2 separate regions of the Homo sapiens genome follow, and region 1 is linked to region 2. A link means that fine-mapping ties the variant in region 2 to the expression of a gene that starts in the linked region. Tissue or cell type: monocytes. Region 2 holds a variant in brackets; the other region holds the start of a gene. All regions are shown on one strand. Distances are from middle to middle. Region 1 holds the start of ODC1-DT (ODC1 divergent transcript). Region 2 overlaps HPCAL1 (hippocalcin like 1).

Evidence for each region. PIP is the estimated chance that this variant, and not a neighbour inherited with it, causes the effect.
Region 1: it holds the start of ODC1-DT, and the variant in region 2 is fine-mapped to the expression of ODC1-DT in monocytes (TOPMed, PIP above 0.99).

Annotation. Positions count from the first base shown.
Region 1 is chr2:10,443,708-10,455,747 of GRCh38, reverse strand. It overlaps ODC1-DT (ODC1 divergent transcript), which reads right to left and starts at 6,020. Exons shown (of 5, transcript NR_110597.1): 1 at 5,877-6,020; 2 at 5,467-5,695; 3 at 3,279-3,467; 4 at 1,690-1,879; 5 at 196-325. It overlaps ODC1 (ornithine decarboxylase 1), which reads left to right and starts at 7,421. Exons shown (of 12, transcript NM_002539.3): 1 at 7,421-7,627; 2 at 10,484-10,593; 3 at 10,699-10,817; 4 at 11,101-11,274; 5 at 11,481-11,653; 6 at 11,912-12,040. The coding sequence starts at 10,716. SNORA80B (small nucleolar RNA, H/ACA box 80B) reads left to right here and starts at 8,899; the gene lies at 8,899-9,034. RefSeq lists silencers at 6,551-8,030, 9,255-9,484 and an enhancer at 8,151-8,240.
Region 2 is chr2:10,419,291-10,431,330 of GRCh38, reverse strand. It overlaps HPCAL1 (hippocalcin like 1), which reads right to left. Exons shown (of 5, transcript NM_002149.4): 3 at 11,196-11,597; 4 at 8,243-8,348; 5 at 3,727-4,607. The coding sequence starts at 11,573. The coding sequence ends at 4,510. Among named protein-coding and RNA genes, the nearest start is that of SNORA80B, 22 kb to the left of the region's middle. RefSeq lists enhancers at 5,756-6,568, 10,897-11,484, 11,485-12,040. The variant C/T (reference allele first, on the strand shown) is at 6,146.

The sequences.
Region 1 (12,040 bases), 24 kb before region 2:
TAGGACTCAACATACGGTCTCGGGGGCAGGGGACATAATGTAACCCATAACAGAGGGCATCTTCATGCTCTTCGTGGGAGGCCTGAACCCATTTCCACGCAAAAGAGTGGATCCTAGTGGGTTTAGTCAACCATGGAGGGATGGGGGAAGGCGAAGGGATCCGTGCATTCCTCCTGGGGAGCCGAGGGGAAGGATGCTGGTCAAACTGGTTTCTTAGATAAAAAGAGACATAGAGGAAGAGATGCTTCTCCCTCTGTCCACAAGCCTTCCTGGGGCAGCCTTCTTGGAACCATGAAGAGAGCTGGGCCAACACCTGGGCAAGGAACTGCAAAAACAGGAAAAGAATCCAGGTCTTCAACGTTGTTCTTGAGGCTCCGAATACATGAAACTGGAGACTCCCTTCCCCAAGCCACGTTGCTACGTGAGATGACTGCTTTTCCTTATTGCTTAAGCCAATGTGAAATGTCACCAGTGCTTACCAGAACTCTGGTTAGAAACTGTCCTACAAGAAGGCAGAAGGAAGACTCTGACGGGCCTACCGCCAAGGGGCCGAGCCTGCCCTTGCCCGCCCGCTCTCAGACCCATTCCCCACTCCCACTGTGCCTCTGCTGTTTCTCTGGTGGAGTGGACAGGGCTGGCCTTGGAAAATGACACTGACCGGGATCTCTTGTCAACAGGCTTCTGACTGGGAAGTGCTGGTGGGAGCCTGGAGGATGGGCGGAGGGGAGAGCTGGCTCCTGTCCCTCCTCTCTGTCTCCATCTCCCTCTCCCTCTCTTGGCTTCGCAGCCTCCCCAGCACTAGCTGCTTGCCCTTGGTGGTCAGTGGGTTTCTCTGGGACAGCCCACAGGTGGCTGCCACGCTGCTGGGGACCCTCGTCCCCTTTCATCCCCAGTCCTCTGGGTGATAGTGGCTTCCTGCAGCTGTAAGACATGTCATCTCTGTAACTAGTTCTCTTGCTAAATTCCCTCTGCTGAACTGCCTGCCTGGGCCCTGAGCCATACAGGGCATGGAATGCCAAAGGGAAACATTCTGTGCCCGCATGTGGAGGCCGACCTGCCTTCTACGATGGCGGGGCCCTGCTGTCAGCCAGGATTTGGATGGACTGATGGAGGCTGGAGCTGGGTGAAGTAGCAGCCCCTGGGGGTGAGAGGCTGCTCCCCAGAGTGACTCCTCCTCTGCTCTCCCCTTCACAGCCCTCAGTCCTCTCCCAGAGGAAAGCTGGGCTTGTGGGCGGGAGCCTCCCTTGGTGCCCACAGGTCTTATTCTTGCCCTGGGTGCTGCAGGCCCCTCCCTAACTCTCCCTGGCCCTGGACGAGCCTTTCCAAACCCAGGCCCCTGCTCCCTCGGCTGCGTCCACCTCCTTTGTCTGTGTGACCACTGTCCCAGGGACCAGAACCTAGAGAGCACAAGCCTGGGGGCAGCCTCCCCTCTGGACCATGAGCTCCTGGAGCACAGGGACCTCCTTGGCCTCCCCTCCTTCTCCCTGGCACCTGGCAGGGGCGCTGGCACAGAGCAAGTGCTCACAGCTGTTAGAACAGAGACAGGGAGCACTGCCCTCAGGGTACCCTACCCCTTGGAGGGCCCGCAAGGCTCGGTGTAGCAGACCCCAGCCACAGGCCCTTCGGATGGTCCCGCCTCTGACTTGGCAGGGACGCAGAGCTCACACTGCCCCTGGGCAGAGCACTCACCTTCCTGAAGACCCAGGTTGTGCAAGGGCCCTCCGCATGCTGCTCCCTGTCACGAGAGGAAAAAATCTTGCAGGCGCTGGGGCTTCCCAGAGGTGGGGCCCCACCAGGGTGAGGCTCTGGCAAAAATGGGGCAGTGGCAAAGCCCAGCAGAGGTGCTGCAACTTGTTGGGTCAGAGGGAGTCACCAGGCGCTTAGGAGAAAATAAAACAAAAGAGGCAGTTTCCTTAGGCACTGGGTAAAAGCGAGGCTTCTCTTGGCTCTTATCAATTCCCTGCTGGTCCCCAGGAACCCGGCCCAGCCACAGAGGGTCCTCCCTTGTCCTGCCTGCCACTTGCACACAGGTGGCACTCAGCAGACACGTATGGAATGAATCAACAAACAACTGACTAAAGGAAGAACACCCAGGGTCTTTTGTTCCCCTAATCTTAGATAGCACGTGGGGAGAAATTCTCCTGAGCTAATCACTCGTATAGCAACCACAAATGACCACTTTTCAGCACAGCCTCGCTTGCTTTCTTTTGTTCCCAATAGCCCACAGGTGCTACTAAACCCAGTTTCAACTTGACAATATTGAATGGCTTTGTGAGCCAGGAACCAGGCTAGAAACTGAACATATGGAGAGAAGAAAATCATGGTCCTGATTTCAAAGGGAGAGTTGCGGGGAGGGGAAGGCAGGATGGAGGCAGGAAACAAAGGTGCCCACACCACGTGACCCACGTTACGATGGCAGGGGCAGGGTCTGTGGAACATCAGTGGCTCAGGGAGCTGGAGTGGCAAAAGAGGCTGGGAGGGTGGGCAGGGCAGGCCTCAGAGGGTCCTGGGTGCCAGGCTAAGGTGTTTGGACTTTACTCTGTGGACCCAGGGCCACCAGTGAAGGGCTTGAAACAGACAAGCCAAGTAGGCAGATGGCAAAGCTTCTGTCCACGTGTCGGATGGCATGTCTGAATACTGACTCGGTACAGGCTTAATGGGACTCTGACTTCTGCCCACTGAAAAAGACAAGGAAGTGGGAAGCAAAATAATGATAAACATCACTTTCCCCATGAAAATGAACTCCTCCAGGCCGGGTGCGGCGGCTCACACCTGTAATCCCAACACTTTGGGAGGCTGAGACGGGCGGATCATTTGAGGTCGGGAATTTGAGACCAGCCTGGCCAACATGGCGAAAACCTGTCTCTACTAAAAATACAAAAAATTAGCCAGGAGTGGTGGTGCACGCCTGTAGTCCCAGCTACTCAGGAGGCTGAGGCATAAGAATAACTTGAACCCAGGAGGCAGAGGCTGCAGTGAGCCAAGATTGTGCCACTGCACCACTCCAGCCTGGGTGACAGAGTAAGACTGTGTCTCAAAAAAAAAAAAAAAAAGTACTCTTCCAAACTCTCAGCCTCCAGACAAGGGCCCCCTCTTCTCTGCAACTGTGTGTGCCCACTGACCTGCCCCCAGGGCCCTTCTGGGCTCCAGGAGGCCCTGGCCTAGTTCCTATTTGGCTCCTTTCCCAGCAGCTTCCCAGTGAGCCACACCAGGGCTGGGGCAAGGTAGGGCCGTGATGTAACACTTTATAAAACAAACATCCTGGGACTTCCACTTACACATGGGCGTCCTCTGCTTCCAGCAGATCCTTTTGGAGGAGCTCCACTTTTCTGATGATGCCACCATTGCTCAGAGGAAGGAAGGCCTCCCTGAAAGCTGCTTTCTATGCCTCAGGCACGCCATTTGGATTATGGGCAGAGATGGCACACTTTCCACCTTGGAGGGTGGATTGGATTTTTCGGAAACACCTAAAACCATTCAAAGGGCAAGGTTAAAGGACTGGTGAGTGACTGAGCTAAGGAAAACTATTTTTGGCCAAACATCCAGATGGGACTAGAGCATCTGTGACTAGTCCCCATTACCCAGGTGTCCTGAGTTAGGGCACCCTTGCCAGGGCAGAAGCTAACCTCCCAAAGTCCTCATGGGGCTGGAGGTCATGAGCCTCACTCCACAGTCCACTCTTCTATGCTTCTGGAAGAAGTTTGGTGAAGTAGAGTACAACCACGGACACGTAAGCAGCGCCCAAACCCATTTTCCAGAAAGCTCTCAATGTCAAACTTTCCAATACTGAGTAAATGGATACACAAATGCTTGCTGGTTATTGTCTTCTATGTGACCTACTTCTTTTTGATAAGGGTGAGGCCAGGCGCGGTGGCTCACGCCTATCATCCCAGCACTTTGGGAGGCCAAGGCAGGCAGATCACTTGAGGTCAGGAGTTTGAGACCAGCCTGGCCAACATGGTGAAACCCCATCTCTACTAAAAATAGAGAAATCAGCTGGATGTGGTGGTGGGCGCCTGGATTCCCAGCTACTCAGGAGGCTGAGGCAGGAGAATTGCTTGAAACTGGGAGGCAGAGGTTGCAGTGAGCCAGTATTGCGCCACTGCACTCCAGCCTGGGCAACAGAGCAAGCCTCTTGACTCAAATAATAATAATAATAATGATAAGGGTGACTGCTTAAGTCTGCAATCACTATATACCTTTATAAGCCTTTTCATGTAAGTTAGCAAAGAAGAAAAAAGATACTTCCTTCATCAGACATGTTTTTGGTTTTGGTTTAGAAAACTTGGTCAGTGGATTTATACAGAACTCTGTGAAATAAGTAGATTCTTAGAACATTAGAAGGAAAGAAGAACCTGAGCTTTCAGCCAGTCCAACCACCCCATTTTCAGAAAGGTAGTCTGGAACCCAGAGAGACAGAGTGATGTCCAAACTTTCATAATGAGCGGGGCAGAGCGGCGGGGGGGTGGTAAGGGGGCCCAAGGAATCCTAAGAAAATGGGAGTTGGTCCCAGAACTTAGGTGAGATGACTAAGCTCTTAGAAGCATGTCCAGTGTAGTATCTAATGTTTTTATTCACTCTTTTAGCACCACACATAGAAGTCTCATCTCTGGCCAGGCACAGTGGCTCACGCCTGTCATCCCAGCACTTTGGGAGGCCGAGGTGGGTGGATCACTTGAGGTCAGGAGTTTGAGATCAGCCTAGCCAACATGGCGAAACCCCATCTCTACTAAAAATGCAAAAATTAGCTGGGCACGGTGGTACATGCCCGTAATCCCAGCTACTCAGGAGGCCGAGGCATGAGAATCGCTTGAGCCTGGGAGGCAGAGGTTGCAGTGAGACGAGATCACGTCACTGCACTCCAGCCTGGGCAACAGAGTGAGACTCTCAGAAAAAAAAAATAAAAAAGAAATCTCATCTCCACATGAGGGTGATTCCTAAGTGCGTGGCATCACGTATTTTTTTTACAAAGATCTGTTGCTTGTTTCCGAAGAAAAGAAAATAGTAATGGAGAGGATGAAGTTTACTGAAAATACATTGAAAGACAATAAAGTCATGCATTTTAAGTAAGGCCAGGTTTAGTCACCACCACCTGAGCTTCTGGAATCCAGCTGAGTGGTTGGGTTTCACAACTCCAGCCTTGCTGTCCACAGTTCTGCTGCCCAGGGCCTCTGCGGGTCTTCCTGCAGCCGCAGAGCAGAGCTCCGGGGAAGGAGCAGGCCTCCTTCCCTCCTTCTATTTCCCCTGCTGGGCTCTCCAGGCAAGGGCTCACCTTCCCAGCATGCGGGCAGGAGTTTGGGCTTTGGGGTGGGCTGGCGGGAGAGGAAGGTATGTGGGCGATAGCAGTGTGAGTGGCTTGTATGTGCAACAGTCAGAGCCCTCCTGGCTCCCTGAGCCAAGAACTGGCCTCTACGTTCCAGTTAATGTTTCTATCTGACCACCCCCAGGCTGCTAGGGGAACCCTACCTGCCAAGACATCCAGGCCCTCTGCCTGGAGGCTGCATACTGGGCAGTGCTGGGAACGACTGGTTGATAGGTGTGCCGGGAAGCTGGGCGATTCTGGCAGTGCAGGACACTTCCGGAGTGTGAGGAAAATTGCGTCATTGGAACAAAGTGATTCCTCACAGAGAGGCACAAAGTCCGCATCACCACAGAATCAAAGATGTCTCATTCAGCGCTGGAGCTATAACGTTCTCTGATGGGTTTTGATGGTTAATCTCATCAAGAATTAAGCTTGTTAAGGGTGGAGCTAACCCCCCTCTCCCTCCCTCTAGTCCGGGGAACACGGTGCCCGGTGGGCGCTCAAGGACTATGTAAAGATAAAGTTGATAGGGGCGTACCACCCCCACATCCCTTCACATAGGAAGAAGACTCACTTCTGCTTACGGCTAGCGTTTGCTCTGTTTCTGTGGAAGTCGTGCCTGCTCCAGGAAGAGCTGGATCATCCATTCATTCATTTATGCATGCATTCATTAAACAGGTATTCACTGACTGTGCCTCAGACCTGGTTTTGGGTACCAAGGAAGTTTTTCAAAACCTCACAGGGCTTTGTAGCTATAAAGATATGTAAGGATCCTTGGGTTATCTGAAGCCCAGAGAAGGGAGATAACTTGTCCAAGAGCACACAGCAAGTTGGGGGCAGCGCTGGGCCAGTGCTCTGAGCTCCTCCAACCCCGCCCCCACCCACCCAAGGCTAGATCTAGATCTACCCACTCCTCTCCTTAACTCTTCATCGGCTGTACTCCCACCCTAAGGAGTCGAAATCCCCACCCTAGGGAGAGACATATCCTGTCTGGATTGTCCAAAAGGGAATGAAAGGTAAAAATGAAAAAAAAAAAAAAAAGTGTCCCCAATTCAAGTGCAGTGCCTCCCTGGTGCGGGCATTCCAGCGTGGCCTGGAGTGAGTGGCAGTCCACCTCCAGAGGCGTCCCCTGGGCGCTCCTAGGGACTCGAATTTCCCACGCGGCTTTTTGCTTTATGTATTCACTGTTTAGACGTTTTCGGTCAAAGCATTTTGGGACTTCCGTAACTCTCAGAGCGCGCCAGGGAGCCGCCCTTAAAGATACCTAGTTACTGATGAGTTCCATCCGGTAAAGCAGAGGGTAGTGGGCGGCTTGGAGACTCAGGATCCGGGTCCCCTCACGCTCCTGGCTGAGTCCCTGGCTTCACAGGGGAAACTACCTCCGCAGGCCAGGACCCATCTAGTTACAGGATACCTCGATGTTACAAAGACGAGGCTTCCAGCGCGGGGGCGTGGAGGCGGCTGCCAGCCCTGCCCGCAGCGTGCTGGCGACCCCCGGGACGCCCCTTCCCTCCCGCGCCTCTGCTCCCTAGCTGGTGGGAGCAGAGCGGCACCGGGATCACTTCCAGGTCCCTTGCACCGGAGGAATGGGCGGCAGCAGGGTCCGGAGTCGGCCCGGCGGGGCCCACGTGGCCAGCACATCGGTCCTCCGCTCGCGATTTCCCTTTTCCGCTCTCGGGCACGAGGTACTGAACGCCAGGTGGAAGCACAGCTGTGCAGCTACAGGCTCTGCCGTTCAGCTGCCGCGGGCCGGGGCCGGGGCCTGCGGCGTCGTGCGCGTGCGCGGACCAGTTCCAGGCGGGCGAGACCGCCGCAGGGCGGGGCGGGGCGAGGCGGCCGCAGGGCGGGGAGGGCGGGGAGAGGCGGCCGCAGGGCGGGGAGGGCGGGGCGCGAAGCCGGGGGCGGGGGCCACGCGTGGGGCAGGCGGTGCTCGGCTCGGCTGACGTCGGCCCGCCGGCGCCCCACCAGCTCCGCGCGGGCCCGGGTTGGCCACCGCCGGGCCCCCGCCCCTCCCCCGGCGGTGTCCCGGCCGGAACCGATCGTGGCTGGTTTGAGCTGGTGCGTCTCCATGGCGACCCGCCGGTGCTATAAGTAGGGAGCGGCGTGCCGTGGGGCTTTGTCAGTCCCTCCTGTAGCCGCCGCCGCCGCCGCCCGCCGCCCCTCTGCCAGCAGCTCCGGCGCCACCTCGGGCCGGCGTCTCCGGCGGGCGGGAGCCAGGCGCTGACGGGCGCGGCGGGGGCGGCCGAGCGCTCCTGCGGCTGCGACTCAGGCTCCGGCGTCTGCGCTTCCCCATGGGGCTGGCCTGCGGCGCCTGGGCGCTCTGAGGTGAGGGACTCCCCGGCCGCGGAGGAAGGGAGGGAGCGAGGGCGGGAGCCGGGGCGGGCTGCGGGCCCCGGGCCCCGGGCACGTGTGCGGCGCGCCTCGCCGGCCTGCGGAGACACGTGGTCGCCGAGCGGGCCACGACCTTGAGGCGCCGCTTCCTCCCGGCCCGGGGTTCTCCCGCGGCTGGATAAGGGTGATCCGGGCGCCTCGTTCTGCCCCCGTCTTCACAGCTCGGGGCTGGAGGGGCCTAGGGGAGACCCACCCGGAGACCCTGCGGCCCCGCGCCGGCCTCTTTCCCAACCCTTCGGCGGCCGCGCGCTGGCCGGGGAGCCGTTGGGGAGGCCCTGGCGGCCGCGCAGCAGGTGCAGGGGCGCAGAGCCCGGGCTCGCCTTGGTACAGACGAGCGGGCCCCGGCCTTGGCGCCTTCAGTTTCCTTCCAGTTTTTATTTTCGCTGTGTCTACAGAGCAGATGACACCAATTTGGAAACCCGCGAGAGTGGGTAGAGCTAAGATAGTCTTGCTGTAGTAGCTGTGATATTAGATGCTCGGCCATGACTTAGAGGTGTTTATTTAAGGACTGTGAATGACTCGGTGATTTCGGAAAAGCTTGGCTTAGATGAACGGACATACACAGGGGAGACAGCCCTAAGGTTTGCAGAAAAGGCTGATTGTGCTGTTTGCGAAGTCGAAATAATTGGTGAAAGTGTAGAAGGCAGAACCTCTCAGGAATGTCTGGGGAGGACAAAGAATGTGTTGGCTGACTTTGTTTAAACATAAAATTGGGCAGACTTTAATTGATTTGTGAAATTTTTTTCAAAGTTTGTTTGAATTAGCCCCTATCTCTTCTAACATTATCCTCTTGTGCTAATTGATTGACCATTTTAAATAACTTAGCTGTTACAGAAAGACCGAAAGGTGTTCTTCAGTAAAATATATTCAAGTAAGTTACTTAAGTAACGCCTTAAAAGATACAGAAAAGCAAAAAAGTATTGGCGTATTAAAAAGAAATCAAAACTTTCCAAGTTTAGGCCTGAACATTGCCTTAAAAATATTTAATAAGGCCTCAAATGACCCAGTCCGAGACTGCATGAGCCTATTTATTATTAAATTGTAAATATTCTTCATATAAACAAAAATATATAACCATGTCTGTAACAAAAATGGTTTTGCTAGCGTTGTTACTCTCTTCCCTTCTCCGAGGGGTGATTTAGGCAACTTCGGAGGTTGACAATGCCAAGCAGTCACAATAGATAGAGCTTTAAAGCAAATTCTATGCATGGGTTTGGATTTATGACAGGCCCGTCACCCTGGGCCTGTCATAGTACCCCATGCCAGAGCAAACTGTGTCCCCGAACCATTGCCTGGCCTCTGTGCCCGTAGGCTGCTGGCACTGAAGTGGGTTGCACAGTGGAAAAGAAGAAAGCTCTACCTGGCAGAAATTTTTAAAGGTTAAAATAAATAATTTTAAGAAAGCTGGTTCACAAGGTGCCACATTTGATGAAAGCAAAATACAGTGGCTTTTATTGTTACTAGAGTGATGTTCTTGCTTGTTTTTCTTTTTTGGTGAAGTTAGCCCCAAATTATTCTCATAGCTAAGCAAATACGAGAGTGACTGTAAGGACAGTTGGCATTCCCGGAATTGCTAAACTTGGTAGGCAACGCTGGTTTAAGAATACTGAGTTCTAGCCGGGCGTGGTGGCTCACGCCTGTAATCCCAACACTTTGGGAGGCTGAGGCAGGCGGATCACCTGAGGTCGGGAGTTGGAGACCAGCCTGACTAACATGGAGAAACGCCATCTCCACTAAAAATATAAAATTAGCCAGGCCCCGGGTGTGGTGGCACATGCCGGTAATCCCAGCTACTCGGGAGACTGAGGCAGGAGAATCGCTTGAACCCAGGAGGCGGAGGTTGAGGTGAGCCGAGATCATGCCATTGCACTCCAGCCTGGGCAACAAGAGTAAAACTCTGTCTCAAAAAAAAAAAAAAAAAATACTGAATTCTGATCAGGTAACAGCAACTGTAATACAATGTGATAAGTTGACTTGAAGATTACAGTTTTTAAGAAGTATATACCCAGCTAATACATGAAAATTAACTCGTAAAATCTCAAATGCTCCAGACATTTCCATGATGCCTGTTGGTCAGTAAAAATCATTCTAAGACTTAGTGGAAGTAGGAAATGTTTGTATGGCTGTGTATAAAGGCTATAATGTAATCCCAGCACTTTGGAAGACCGAGGCGGGTGGATCACCTGGGGTCAGGAGTTTGAGACCCACCTGGACAACGTGGTGAAATCCTGTCTCTACTAAAAACACAAAAATTAGCCGGGCATGGTGGCAGGCGCCTGTAATCCCAGCTGCTGGGGAGGCTGAGGCAGGAGAATCGCTTGAACCCGGGAGGCAGAGGTTGCAGTGAGCCAAGATTGCACCGCTGCACTCCAGCCTGGGTGACAGCGTGAGACTCTGTCTCAAAAAAAATAAAAAAGTCTATAATGCTATTTTAAGTTTCTAAGGAACTGAAACTGCTCTGAAATAAATCAGACCATTATAAGACTTTTTTCCATATCAGTGAGCTAAGTGCAGATAAGCTTCTGAAACTTGCATGCTAGATTTTTTTGGTACAAATATTTGAAATGCTTAGTGTGCTGCCTTGGAAAAACCTGGTATTTTTTGTTGTGTCCTTATACTGCCAAGGTTTATGGAATCATGTACCTTATGCCTAGTAATAATTAGGATGACCAGGCCAGTGAGTGGTTCATATCCGGGGCATGATTAGCTCTGCGTGTGCTCAGCCAGTGCCCCATCTTCAACTCGATGTGTTCCTAAGGTAGACAGCAAATTCCCTATTTTATTTCTCAGATTGTCACTGCTGTTCCAAGGGCACACGCAGAGGGATTTGGAATTCCTGGAGAGTTGCCTTTGTGAGAAGCTGGAAATATTTCTTTCAATTCCATCTCTTAGTTTTCCATGTAAGTATTCAGTTTACATTTATGTTGCAGGTTAATCTTAAGAATTGTATTGCTAAGGCTTCTAAGTGAATTTCTCCACTCTATTTGCATTTTGTTGCATTTCAGAGGAACATCAAGAAATCATGAACAACTTTGGTAATGAAGAGTTTGACTGCCACTTCCTCGATGAAGGTTTTACTGCCAAGGACATTCTGGACCAGAAAATTAATGAAGTTTCTTCTTCTGTAAGTATATGAGGCCCATGCTGGCAGTGCAGCTGAGAGTGCCAGGCAAGTGGAAAACTTTGGCAAGGTCTAAGGAAGAGCAATGAGGCTTACATGTCTTGTTATGGAATGTAGAAATTAATTCACTGGTGGTAAATTAATAGTGATAATGGTGATACTCATATCAGTGGCTAGACTCAAAAGAGCAGGATTCATTGTGACTGATGGGAATGAAGGTCGCTGGCTATTGGTGTGGTGTGTGGTGAGGCTGCTAGTGAGTCACCTGTGACCACTCTTGTTTCAGGATGATAAGGATGCCTTCTATGTGGCAGACCTGGGAGACATTCTAAAGAAACATCTGAGGTGGTTAAAAGCTCTCCCTCGTGTCACCCCCTTTTATGCAGTCAAATGTAATGATAGCAAAGCCATCGTGAAGACCCTTGCTGCTACCGGGACAGGATTTGACTGTGCTAGCAAGGTAAGCGATAGCAGCAGGCCTCAAAAGCGTTGTATAAAATGGGCCTGGTATTCCCCACGAGGCAGATACAAGTTGTGTTTTTTGGGCAATAAATGCTCACTAAAGGCAAATGGGGCGGGGGGGTACATGACAACTTCCCATGCTTTTCTGTTTATTCCACGTGTTAAGCCACATATGGATAGCATGACACCACTCTTCTTTTTCAGACTGAAATACAGTTGGTGCAGAGTCTGGGGGTGCCTCCAGAGAGGATTATCTATGCAAATCCTTGTAAACAAGTATCTCAAATTAAGTATGCTGCTAATAATGGAGTCCAGATGATGACTTTTGATAGTGAAGTTGAGTTGATGAAAGTTGCCAGAGCACATCCCAAAGCAAAGTGAGTTATTCCCCCATCTGAGGGCAAGATCGGGAGCATAAGATATGTGGATTCTTATCAAACAAACTTAAATTTCTGATTATTATATTTCTATACTTTAGTAGAAAGTAGTTGAAACCCCCATTGAGTCATGAAGCCTGGGACTCAAACTACAGAATATATCAGCGACAGTATTTAGAACAGGATTGTTTTTATTTTAATTGTGGCTATAAGTGAACATCTATCATGAGACATTTGCTGCACTTTCCTTGCTTGTAGGTTGGTTTTGCGGATTGCCACTGATGATTCCAAAGCAGTCTGTCGTCTCAGTGTGAAATTCGGTGCCACGCTCAGAACCAGCAGGCTCCTTTTGGAACGGGCGAAAGAGCTAAATATCGATGTTGTTGG
Region 2 (12,040 bases):
CGAGTCTAAACATTTTCCTGTCTCAGGAGTTGTTCCCATTACCCTGTATTTACTCAGTGAGCATGGGACACCATGCAGTGAGTGTCAGGACAGCTGGTGGATGGGACCATGGAGCCACCGGAGCCATTTTCCAGAGTTTCTGTTGAGTCCACCCACATAAGCCTTGCTTATGCAGGTACATGATTAGATCTTCTATCTGTCTATAGGATAAGGGACACTTGTATGCAACTCCCAAGGAACTTTAACAACTTGGAGTGCCCGTGCAGGATGGCAAAGGGTCTGGGATCCCCTGGGGCAAGGAGAAGGCAGGACAAGAGAGAAGCTTGCAGAAGGAGGTGGTTGGAGGAAGAGGAAGCAGGCCCAGGGCCAGTACTGCAAATTACCAGGGAAGGACAGGTGGAGACACTTTCTTTCTTTTTTTTTTTTTTTTTGAGACAGAGTCTCTGTCACCCAGGCTACAGTGCAGTGGCACCGTCTCGGCTCACTGCAACCTCCGACTTCTGGGTTTACGCCATTCTCCTGCCTCAGCCTCCTGAGTAGCTGGGACTACAGGCGCCCACCACCATGCCCGGCTAATTTTTTATATTTTTAGTAGAGACGGGGTTTCACCGTGTTAGCCAGAATGGTCTCGATTTCCTGACCTCATGATCCACCCGCTTTGGCCTCCCAAAGTGCTGTGATTACAGGCGTGAGCCACCGCACCCAGCCGAGACACTTTCTAACAACCCGCCCTGAAAGATCCTGATCCCGGACAAAGGAAGAGACTGAGGAGGCCTCCTGCTGGGTGGGTGGCATGGACGACAGTTTTGGGTTCACTTCTGGGTTCTTTCCTCCTCTGATAGGCTGGGCTTCTTGGCACAGGGACACCATCTTTGGGGTTCAATTCCCTGCCTTCCCAGAGAGCACTGGACTCCTGGACAAATCATACTGGCTTCTGTGAGCTCCTTGTAGGGCAGGGTCCACTAGGATCCCCATATCTACCTCCTCCATATCTGAGCAGAGGTGGTTATAATGGTTAATTTTATGTGTCAACATGACTGGGCCAGGGGGTACCCAGACATTTGGGCAAACCGATTATTTTGGGTGTGCCTGTGAGGGTGCTTTTGGATGAATTTGACATTGGAACTGGTGACCAATGGGGGAACCAGGTGGGGTAAAGCAGATCCCCCTCCCCAATGTGGGGGTCCTCATCCACTCAGCTGAAGGCCTGAATAGGACAAAAGCCTGAGAATTTGTTCTTTGCCTCACAGTCTTGAGCTGGGACATTGGCCTCCTCCTCCCTTAAGATTCAGACTGGAACTACACCATTAGCTCTCCTGGGTCCCCAGCTTGCTGACCTCTGTCTACAGGGGACAGGGCTGCTTGTCTCCTTGGGACCTCTCAGCCTCCATAATCACGTATAAGCCAATTCCTTATGATAAATACATCTATCTAACCATCCATTCGCCTACCCATTCATCCATCCATCCATCCATCCATCCATCCATCCATCCACCCACCCGCCCACCCATCCATGCATCCACCCTCCCATCCAACCAATCACCCACCCATCCATACATACATACATCCACCCACCTGCCCACCCATCCACCCATCCATCCAGCCACCCACCCACCAACCCATCCATGCATCTACCCACCCACCCAACCATTCACCCATCCATCCATCCATCCATCCACCCACCCACCCACCCACCCATGCATGCATCCACCCACCCACCCAACCATTCACCCACCCATCCACCCATCCATCCATCCACCCACCCACCCAACCATCCATCCACCCATCCATCCATCCATCCAGCCACCCATTCATCCATCAACCGATCCACCTAGGGACCCATCCACCCACCCACCCATCCACCCATACTCCCATCCATCCATCTACCCACCGACCCATCCATCGACCCACCCATCCACCTATCGATCCACCCACCGACCCACCCATTCACCAACCCATCCACCCAGCCATCCATCCACCCATCCATGCATCCACCTGTCTATGCATCCACCCACCCATCCATTCACCCACCCATCCCCTCACCCACTCATCCATACATCCATCCATCCATCCATCCACCCACCCACCCACCCATCCATCCACCCACCCCTCCCATCCATGCATGTCTCCTATCAGTTCTGTTCCTGGAGAACCCTGACTAATGTAGTGGTCACTCCCATCTGTTTCTGTTGGACTCTGTCCCCATCATAAGTGAGCCCTCCCCACAACAAGCACTCTTGATTTAACCTTTGCCAGTCCCAGTTAAATGTTTATAAAATTCAAGCCGTTCACTGGCTGTTCTTCCAGGTGAGGCAGTGTTGCCAAAGGCACCGTCTTGCCTCTTTGTAGCAAGCTAGATCTGCCCAGGGCACCTGGCCTCCATCTCGCACCCCACCTGGTTCCCCCATCAAGGCTTGGTGGCTCTGGGTGCATGGAGAGTTTTACTATGAAATAGCTCTAGCAGTGCCATTGACTCAGAAGGCACTTGGCAAACAGACTCACCATTTCTATTAAAAGAGACATGGAGTCTTAAAAAATATTAAAATGACTAAAATCAACAAATTAGCTGCTGTTGCTGAAGGCCTGCTGGGAGGCAGGTTCCAAGCCATGCGCTTTGCATATGTGACCTTGAGCCACCCAGCTCCCCCCATCCCCTACAGTGAAGACACTGAGGCACAGAGGAGCCGACAGCAGCAGGCAGGTGGGCAGACGCCGTAGTGCCCGTCCTGGTAATAGAACCTCCATTCCACTCACCCCTTCCCAACCCTATGCCCTCTGGGGGAGGCAGATGCCACCTTGGCCAAGGGCCATCTTGACCAGCGTAAGCCAGCCGTGGCCATGACATGGTCATCTTGTGAACACAGGCCATGGTTTCAGCCATGAGATGTGGGGCTGGTGGGGACGGGGTGGTGGGCAGATTCTGGAGGGTTTTCCTGTCCCTCAGTGGGAGGACAGAGGCTTCTCTCCCTGCCTCTTGATGCTCCCATGTCAGCTGTACTGCCCAGAACCACAACAGCAGTTGTAGGCACCCCAGGAAGACAAGCCTGAGGTGAAAAGCTGACTGTGATTAGGAGGCGCAGTGCTGTTCACCCGAGGTCCCAGCTACTCAGGAGGCTGATGCGAAAGGATTGCTGGAGCCCAGGAGGTTGAGGCCAGCCTGGGCAACATAGAGAGACACTCTCTCTTAAAAAAAGAAAAAAAAAAAGACAAGCTGATGCCTGGGGATCCCCAGCGATGCTGCCTTTGGATCCCTTGGCAGGCGAGACCAACCAACCCCCACTTCTTCAGCTGGGCCTTCTGCTGCTGGGACCAGAAGCACTGACGGCAGCGGCGAAGGCTGGATGGAGAACCAGGCCTGCCACCTCTGGGTCCAGCCTGACTGCACCCTTGGCTATGCCCGTCCTCTCTTGGAATGTGGCTTTCCTACGACCTGAAACCGTGGAAGGAGAAGGAGAGGGAAGGGCTGGGGGGAGGCAGAAGCCTGACCGTCAGATCTGCCAAGAACAGTCATCGTTTATTTCCACGAGTATTTCTTGGCATTAGGCAGATATTGAAGAACAGGCTGTGCAAGATTTATAAACGCGGGGACAGCTGGAGGGACGTAAGAGGGGCCGGATTTACCAACAGCGGTGGCACGCAGCACACCCGCCTTGCCTGGAGAGTGCAGGGGCCACGGCCTGAGGAATGGGGGCTCCCGCGGGCAGACGCAAAACTCAGAAAATGCCATTTATTTTATCATTTTAATACCGGAAATGCCAGACCAATCAACAGGGAGGACAGACCAGACACAAATGCCTGTGCTCACAACACGGATGGGAGGATCATCACGGCTCAGGGCACACATGCATTTCCTTAGAAACAGGCAGACAAAGAGAGCATAAATACCACACAACAGCCAGGCTCAGGGGGCTGCGGGCCACAGAGGGCTGCGCTTCAAAGGCAGTCAGAGGCATTAAATACGGGACCTACACAATACACTCCACTTCACCATACATAATTTATATATTAAAAGAAAGGGGACCACAGTATCTATACGTGCAAGCGGCTGTGGTGGAGAAAATGAACGGGGGGGCAGCCATGCACGGGAGGGGCTCCCTGTATACCCTCCCGACGCCTCGTCCCCACCCTTCCCACAGAGTCACTTGGGATCACAAAACGCATGGGCCGGCCGGGGCGCAGCCTCGGGAGGTCCTGCCTGGTCTCCTCGGCATGGACCTCTGAGCTCCCCGTGAGCCGGGAGGTGCCTGGAACCAAGAACACTTGAACCCTGCATGTCACCACATCCCTGGGAGTTGCCCTGGAAGGGACCGGGCCAGGCGTGAGGGGAGGAATGTCGCGTTGGTCAGGTGGAGGAGGGAGGCGCAGCCACCGGGCTGGGCAGGTGCAACGCATGCCCCAGGCCCGGGGCCCGGGAGAGCAGGAACGATTGCGGGGCATCCACTCTTGCAAGCAAAGCTTAAACGGCACGACAAGCCTGTGTTTCTCTGCAACTGTCCAGGGGCCGCTCGCTCAGAACTGACTGGCACTGCTGGGGTCGCACTGCAGCAGGCGGACGATGGAGGGGTCGCTCTTGGCACCTCTGATGAATTCTTCCAAGGACAGTTTGCCTGCAGGGGACCAGAGACAATGGGATTAGCCAGTGCTCACTGTTCTTTATGCTTCCAGAGAGGATGGGGACAGCTCTCAGGTCAGGTATGCTCCCTTTGTTGAAAGTCCTGAGCCTTCTTGAAGCTGGACGGTGTCTAGTCTCCATTCACTTTACAGGCATTTCTGAAAAAAAATCCTTTTTCCTTTCCCTGCTCCCTGCAATACATCAGGTACCTCAAAGGGCTTACCCAGCAAGCTCAGCAGGACGTGGCTGATGAGGGCCATTTAAATCCTTTTAGAAATCACCCCACACTTCGCTTATTAAGGAACGTGTACACTGTGCAGAAAAATGAAGCATTTGCCTCTAACCCATACAGAATCCAGGCTGAGAAGGCCATGCTGGTTGGGGGCCCCCGGAAGCACGGTCCGGATCCTCCCTGGCATCAGCGTAGACCCGCTGCTCAGGCTTGGGGTACCAAACTCATGCTCTGTACTGTTTTGGCCCCATGCGGTGAGAGGAAAACCTAGAAAAAGATTGGTCGTGCTAAGGAATCAGCTGCCCCCTCATCCTCCGCATCCAATGCTGGTGACAACATATTCCCTCTCCCAGGACACAGACTCGGTGACTCCACACTGGGCTGAGTGGCCTCTGGAGGCTCGTGGCCTAGGGCAGGGCTCCGTAAGGCTGATCGGCTGAGCTGGGTGGGGTGAGGTTTTCTGACCCTCCGCTCCCCATCCCATAACCGCTGTCAATGAGCTCACACTGTGGTCACTATAGCCCTGGCTCTGCTAGTCCACAAGCAGGATAGGCTGTAAGGATTCTGCCCGTTCAGACATGGCCTCAAGGGCAGGAGGCGGTCCCTCTGGCTCCAGCTGGTGGGGAAGGATGAGGTTTGAGGTTGGCTGCGTCCTGGCGGCCTGGTCCTGGGGCAGCCCCTCCATGTGTCTGTTTGAGGCTCTGTGCTGTCAGCTGGAATCACTAGGGCACCCTGCAAAATGTCTGTGCAGGCAACACAGACGCATGCAGCCAGGCCCAGCACAGGGGAAGGCATGCAGGAGGGGCTCTCGGCTCTGGCGCATGGCAAGCCACCAACGTTTCCAGGTCTCAGGATCTTCGTCTCGAAGGTGGGATAATGGGAACACCCATCTCAAAGGCACCTGGGAGGATGCATTTGAGGACTCAGACCAGCACCAGGACGGAGGATGCCCCTGCACAGTAGGGCCCTGCTGGGAATTCAGCCCCTCCAGCCCACTGGCAGGCAGGGACACCTGTCCTCATGGGACTCTGGCCCAGGCTTGGGCAGGCTGGCTTCTTCCAGGGCACGAACTTGATGCCTCTGGGGCCTGGGCAGCCTGCTGGCCCCAAGAGAGCCCAAACAATGCCCGGGCTAAGGGGTGGGTAGGGAGAGGGAGGGACAGCCAGGCCCTCAGCAGACAGTCCCCAGGAACCTCTGCCAATGGAGAGAGTGGCTCCCCACCCTCCACCTCTGACCACTCAGGGCAGCCAGCTGTGTGGTCATCTCCTTGGCTAGGTGTGGGGCCTCAGAGTCCACGGCCC[C/T]AGCCTCCCCACTTCCAGTTCCTGACCCCAGGCCCTCCTGTCTCAGGCCGAGAGAGAGCAGGCCAGCCCAGATGGACCTCCAGTCAGGAGAACCAGAGCTGCCCCAGGACGACTCTGAGGGCTGCTGAGATGCTGGGAGCTTCCGAAGGTTCCACTGGCTCCTCCTGATGGAGGGCAGGGCAGGCGAGGGGGTTGCTGAGCACAGCCTGTCCCACATGTGCGGCCTGACAAGCTGAGGAGAGGGTGGCTTTAATGATACTTGTGTCCTGGAGAAACCCATCAGCCCAGCCTAGAGGCCTGGAGCAGCCAGGCACCTTCCAGGGTGGCCAGGGAAGTTGGGGCAAACTCCAGGGCACCATCACTCCTGAGCAGTCCCCGGAGGAGCTTTGAGGGCCGAGGACCACTCCCTGAACTGACTCTGGCCCCTGGCTGCAGCCCCACCTTCCTGGTATCACTCTTCCCTCCTTGCCCCAAGCTCCAGGGACAGGCGGGTCCCCTGGGCTCACAGGAGGAAGTGCTCCATCCCAGCAGGCACATTAGCAACGACCATGCCATCCAAATTCCCAACCAACCTAGAAGATGCCCTCTGAAGAGGTGGGCAGGGCCAAGCCAGGAGGCAGATTCGGGCAGCGAGTGACCATGGGTGGCTTCCCCAGGGACACTGTGAAGTTGGGAACAACAGCCATTATTTGTGGAGTGCAAGCCCTGCTAAAAGCTTTAAGGCATCATCTCGCTGAAACCTCACAACCCCATGGGACCGGATTCACCATCCCCACGAGGAGCGGACAGCCTCAGGAGAGCGGCAGCAGGTGCCCTGCTAGGCTGGAGGGTGGAACACACATTTCCCATCAGCCCAAAGGCAACGCCAGGCACCAGGCAGCCTTGTTTTCTGTGTGTGTGTGTTTTGAAACTGTGACCTGGCTGCCTGGAATGCTCTTTGCTGCTTACAGCTCCCCCACATCCCGTCTCCCGCTGGGGCCATGCTTAACTCACCCGAGGGCTGCACTCCAGACTTCGCAGAGCAGCTTCTTGGGCATTAGCTTATCGTTTAATCCCCAGCACAACCCAGGGAGTATTTCCTCTTTATTTTTTTGAGATGGAGTCTCACTCTATCGCCCAGGCTGGAGTGCAGTGGTGCGATCTCGGCTCACTGCAAGCTCTGCCTCCCGGGTTCACACCATTCTCCTGCCTCAGCCTCCCGAGTAGCTGGGACTACAGGCGCCCGCCACCACGCCTGGCTAATTTTTTTGTATTTTTAGCAGAGACGGGGTTTCACCGTGTTAGCCAGGATGGTCTCGATCTCCTGACCTCGTGATCTGCCCACCTCGGCCTCCCAAAGTGCTGGGATTACAGGCGTGAGCCACTGCGCCCAGCCTGTATTTTCTCTTCTTAAGGTCGTGTTTCTTTATTGCTCAAAAGCAAAGCAAACCTGGTGCTGTGGCTGCTCTTGACAAAGCCGGCAAGAAGAGCAGAATGGGAGGGCCGCACAGCCGCCCTCACCTCACAGCCAATGCAGAGGAGGGCACTCGAGGCACAGCCCTGTCACCACTGCTGCCACCCACCATCGTGAGACTTGCACTTCTGCAGTGGGGCTGAGTCTCCACAGAGCTGCTGTAGGTGGACAAGGTGGCAGCGTACATCCTGACAGTTCCCCTTGGACACTGGGGCCATCTGGGCAGCTTCTTCTCTCAGGATGGCAGCAAGAGAGGCATGGCCAGCACCCCAGGACCCCAACATCTGGGATCCTTTGATCTCAACCCCTCCAGGTTCAGGGCCACCAGCATGCTTGCCTCCCTGCCCCTAAACATTGTACCCACGGGAATATGGGTATGCCCGATTCTATAAGTGGGGAGACAGTGGCTCAGAGAGGCCACAACATGCCCAGCATCACAAAGCTGCACAGAGGAGCCAGGATACAGCACGGGTGTCCCTGACTGCATCCCGCTCTTCCCTGGGCATGGCAGGCGCCAGGCAGGTGGCGGGCGGGGGTGGCCCTCAGGAGACCAAGAAGCTGCAGAGGGGAGGGGGTGCCCCAAACCACATGGTTTTGCCCCTACCGTGGCGTACACATGCAGCCCCGCCCCCACCCCGCACTACCGTCATTGTTGGTGTCCATCTGCCTGAAGATCTTGTCTGTGCGCTTCTCCGGGGTGGACTCATCCTCCGGCATCTTCATCACAGACGACACCATCTTGTAGATGGCCTGCGGATGGGGGCAATGACACTGTGCTCAGAGGCCCGGGGGCTTGGGCGGGTGCAGCAAGGGTGGGCTTCCGCCCAGCCCACAACAAGGCTCGGAGAGGTCAGGGGCTCCCGGTGGCCTTCGGGACCCTTCCCCAGTGGGGAGAATGTTCCCTAGTGAACCTCACGGGTGTCTATGTGAAGTTCAAGAGCAGAGCTGGCAGAAGGGTTCTACTGGGAGGGTGGTGAGGGTGCTGGTATCTCTGCCTGGGGGTGGGTAGTGCCAGGAAGGTGCCTAAGTGTCCCTGTCGGGGGCTGGGAATGCTGAGGGAGAGTGGTGGTCACAGATGTGTGAAATTCCCCACACTGCCTGCTGAGCTGTGTGCATTTTACTCCATGGCTGTTACCCCTCAGTTTAAAAGAGACTGAGTCCCTGAAACTCACAGGGCAAGCCCCATCACCAGCCCCGACAGGACAGGAAGCAGCAGCACTGGGGTCTCCATGGCCTGTTTAGGGCACTGTCAGCCGAGGGCTCAGTCTAGCCACTGGTCTCTCTGCGTGTCTCTGCCTGAGTGGCCCAGCCTGGGGCATGTGACTCTGTGCTGCTGGTGGGTGTACAGAGGAGACGGTGATGGGACTGGTGAGTGGCCACTGAGCAGAGTGACATGCGTGGGGAGTGGTGGCACTGCTGTGGGATTTTCTGAGCACTCCACGTGAAGGTGGCTTGATATTCTCATTCCTGACAACAGACCATTTTCTCATTGTGAGAAAGAGGTAGCAACCAAGTGTCCCATGAGAAACACCACCCAGCCGGCCAGGGAGCCATCGATGGCGTCGGGGGAAGGCTTTCAGGGTTTGGGGACTTGGTTTGGGGGCTGTCCCGTTTGGACAGAAGTGGCTGCTCCTCACTGCTTGGAACAGTTCTACCAGTGCCTTGATGTTCTGACCAAGCCTCTGCACGGCCAGTGACAGGCACACCTATTTGCAAAGGGTAAGGGTTAACACACAGGACAGGACGGGTGATTCCTGGGGAATAGAATTCTTACTTCCGCCACTGCATGAAGCTAAGAGCCAGAAAGTGACGACAGTACCAGAGTTCCCCGAGCCCATGTTAATTTACTCTGACAGTGTGAAAACCATCTACGTGGGAAATGGGTCGCTCATTCCTGAGGCGGGCCACTGCTGCTGCAGAAGTTCACGGATTTGATACCCGCTACTGGAGGCCCACCCCTGAAGTTCCCTACCATGGGACCACCCCTTCTGAAGAGTTCCATTTTTTTCTTATTTTGCTTTTGGTCTTTTTGGAGGCAGGGTCTCACTCTGTCACCCAGGCTGGAATGCAGCAGTGCAATCACAGCTCACTGTCACCTTGAACTCCTGGGCTCAAGCAATCCTCCCATCTCAGCCTCCCAAGTAGCTGGGACTACAGGTGCATGCCACTATGCCCTGCTACTCTTTTAATTTTTTATAGAGATGGAGTCTCACTATATTGCCCAGGCTGGTCTCAAACTCCCGGGCTCACGCGATCCTCCAGCCTCGGCCACCCAAAGTGTTGGGATTACAGGCCTGGCCATGAGTTCTAGAATTGGATGCTCCTGGGCTCAGGGAGGCACTCAGGGGAATGCCAGGGAGGGGCAGCTCTGCTCTCTACTCTCTCTCGCATACCTAGGCACCTGGCCAAGTGAACAAAACTTGGTTTCCTTCTGAAACATGGCCTTTCTGCTAGAGCTGTTGATAGGCATGAAGGTGAAGAGATGCCTCCTAAAGTGACGTCTTTCCCGTGCTGAGCTGATTCTCGTGATCGTTAATGCTTCAGTTTTACTTGATGACTGCGCATTCCTGGGGACATCACAAGCTATCTGTTGAGTTCTCAAATCCAGGGCTTTCCCCAGGTCTTGGCAGGTACCTCTTGCAAGTGCCAAGGAGCCCAGCAATCATACAATTCTTGGCCAGGCACGGTGGCCCATGCCTGTAATCCTAGCACTTTGGGAGGCTGAAGGCAGATCAACTGAGGTGAGGAGTTTAAGACTAGCCTGGCCAACATGGTGAAACCTCGTCTCTACTAAAAATACAAAAATTAGCTGGCTGCGGTGGCACATACCTGTAATCCCAGCTACATGGGAGGCTGAGACAGGAGAATCTCTTGAACCCAGGAGGTGGAGGTTGCAGTGAGCCGAGATCATGCCACTGCACTCCAGCCTGGGCGACAAAGTGAGACTCCATCTCCAAATATATATAAAATATAATTTTTAGAAATTCATCTATTTGAGTCTCAGACTTTGTAAAATGCAGAGAATGACCCACGTTGTTGGGTTATGAAGATGAAAACGGATCAAAGTGCTCCACCCGGCCCTGATGTATAGCAAGTGATCAATAAACATTGGCTTTTACCATTGCCCTTTGCAAGGGTCTGCCCAATCAGGTGACAACTGCTCACTTTCCAAAGTGCACCAGGTAGCAACCTGGCCAAGAAAGACCCAATGTCGAGTGAACATAAAGAACACAGGGAGGCCAGGCACGGTGGCTCACACCTGTCATTCTAGCACTCTGGGAGGCTGAGGCGGGCAGATCGCTTGAGCCTAGGAGTTCAAGACCAGCCTGGATAATGTGGCAAAACCCTCTCTCTACCATCAAAAATACCAAAAAAATTAACAGGGCATGGAGGTGCTCAAGAGGCTGAAGCGGAAAAATCACCTGAGCCCAGGAGGCAGAGGTTGCAGTGAGCTGAGATAGTGCCACTGCACTCCAGTCACTAGAGCAAGATTCCTGTCTTAAAAAAAAAAAAAAAAAAAAAAGCCCTGGGCTGGGGGCTGGGAGCTGGGAGGGGACCTGGGCCCGCGGTGAGACCCGGGGCCTCGGGCGCCGGTACCTGCACGATCTCCAGCATCTCGCTGCGGCTGATGTAGCCGTTGCCGTCCAGGTCGTACATGCTGAAGGCCCACTTGAGCTTCTGCTCCAGCTTGCCCCGCGAGGTCACGCTCAGCGCAATGATGAACTCCCGGAAGTCGATGGTGCCGTCGCCGTTGGTGTCGAAGGTGCGGAAGACGTGCTCGGCGAACTTGGAAGCGTCGCCGTAGGGGAAGAAGTTGGCGTAGATCTTCTTGAACTCGTCCACGGTCAGGTGGCCGGTGGGGCAGTCCTTGAGGAAGCCCTTGTACCACTCCTGCAGCTCGTGGTCGGTGAACTCCGTGTTCTCCCGCAGGTCCTGCAGCACCTCGGGCCGCAGCTTGCTGTTCTGTTTGCCCATGGCGGCTGGCGGCGGCGACTACACCTGCAAGACAGGGGGTCAGCCGGGGACGCCACCCACGGCCACGGAGCAGGGCTGAGCCATGTGCCGGAGAGACCAAATAAGCCCATCGCTGTGCAAGCGCTGCGACTCAGCAACTCCCGGGTCCCCCATCGGAAGGCATGCCGCTATCTTATGGACCACCAAGAAGGCCAAGAGACTCTAATTATATCACGACAGCTCACCCTCACACTGCGGGACACGTTCTCACTTGGAGAATGTGGAAATGCGGGGGGGAAAATGCAACTTAAAATCAGTGGAACAGGGCATCATCCGGTGCCCACCAGGGGTTGTACGAGAGGCGAAGATTAAAATCAGTTCTTACTTTCATCCCCCTCATCAGCTCCTGGCAAAGTGGCCACCTCAGCCACATCCCAGACTCTTTGGGGCAGTTCTTCCCTCTTTCAGGCATCACATTATGTTTTTAT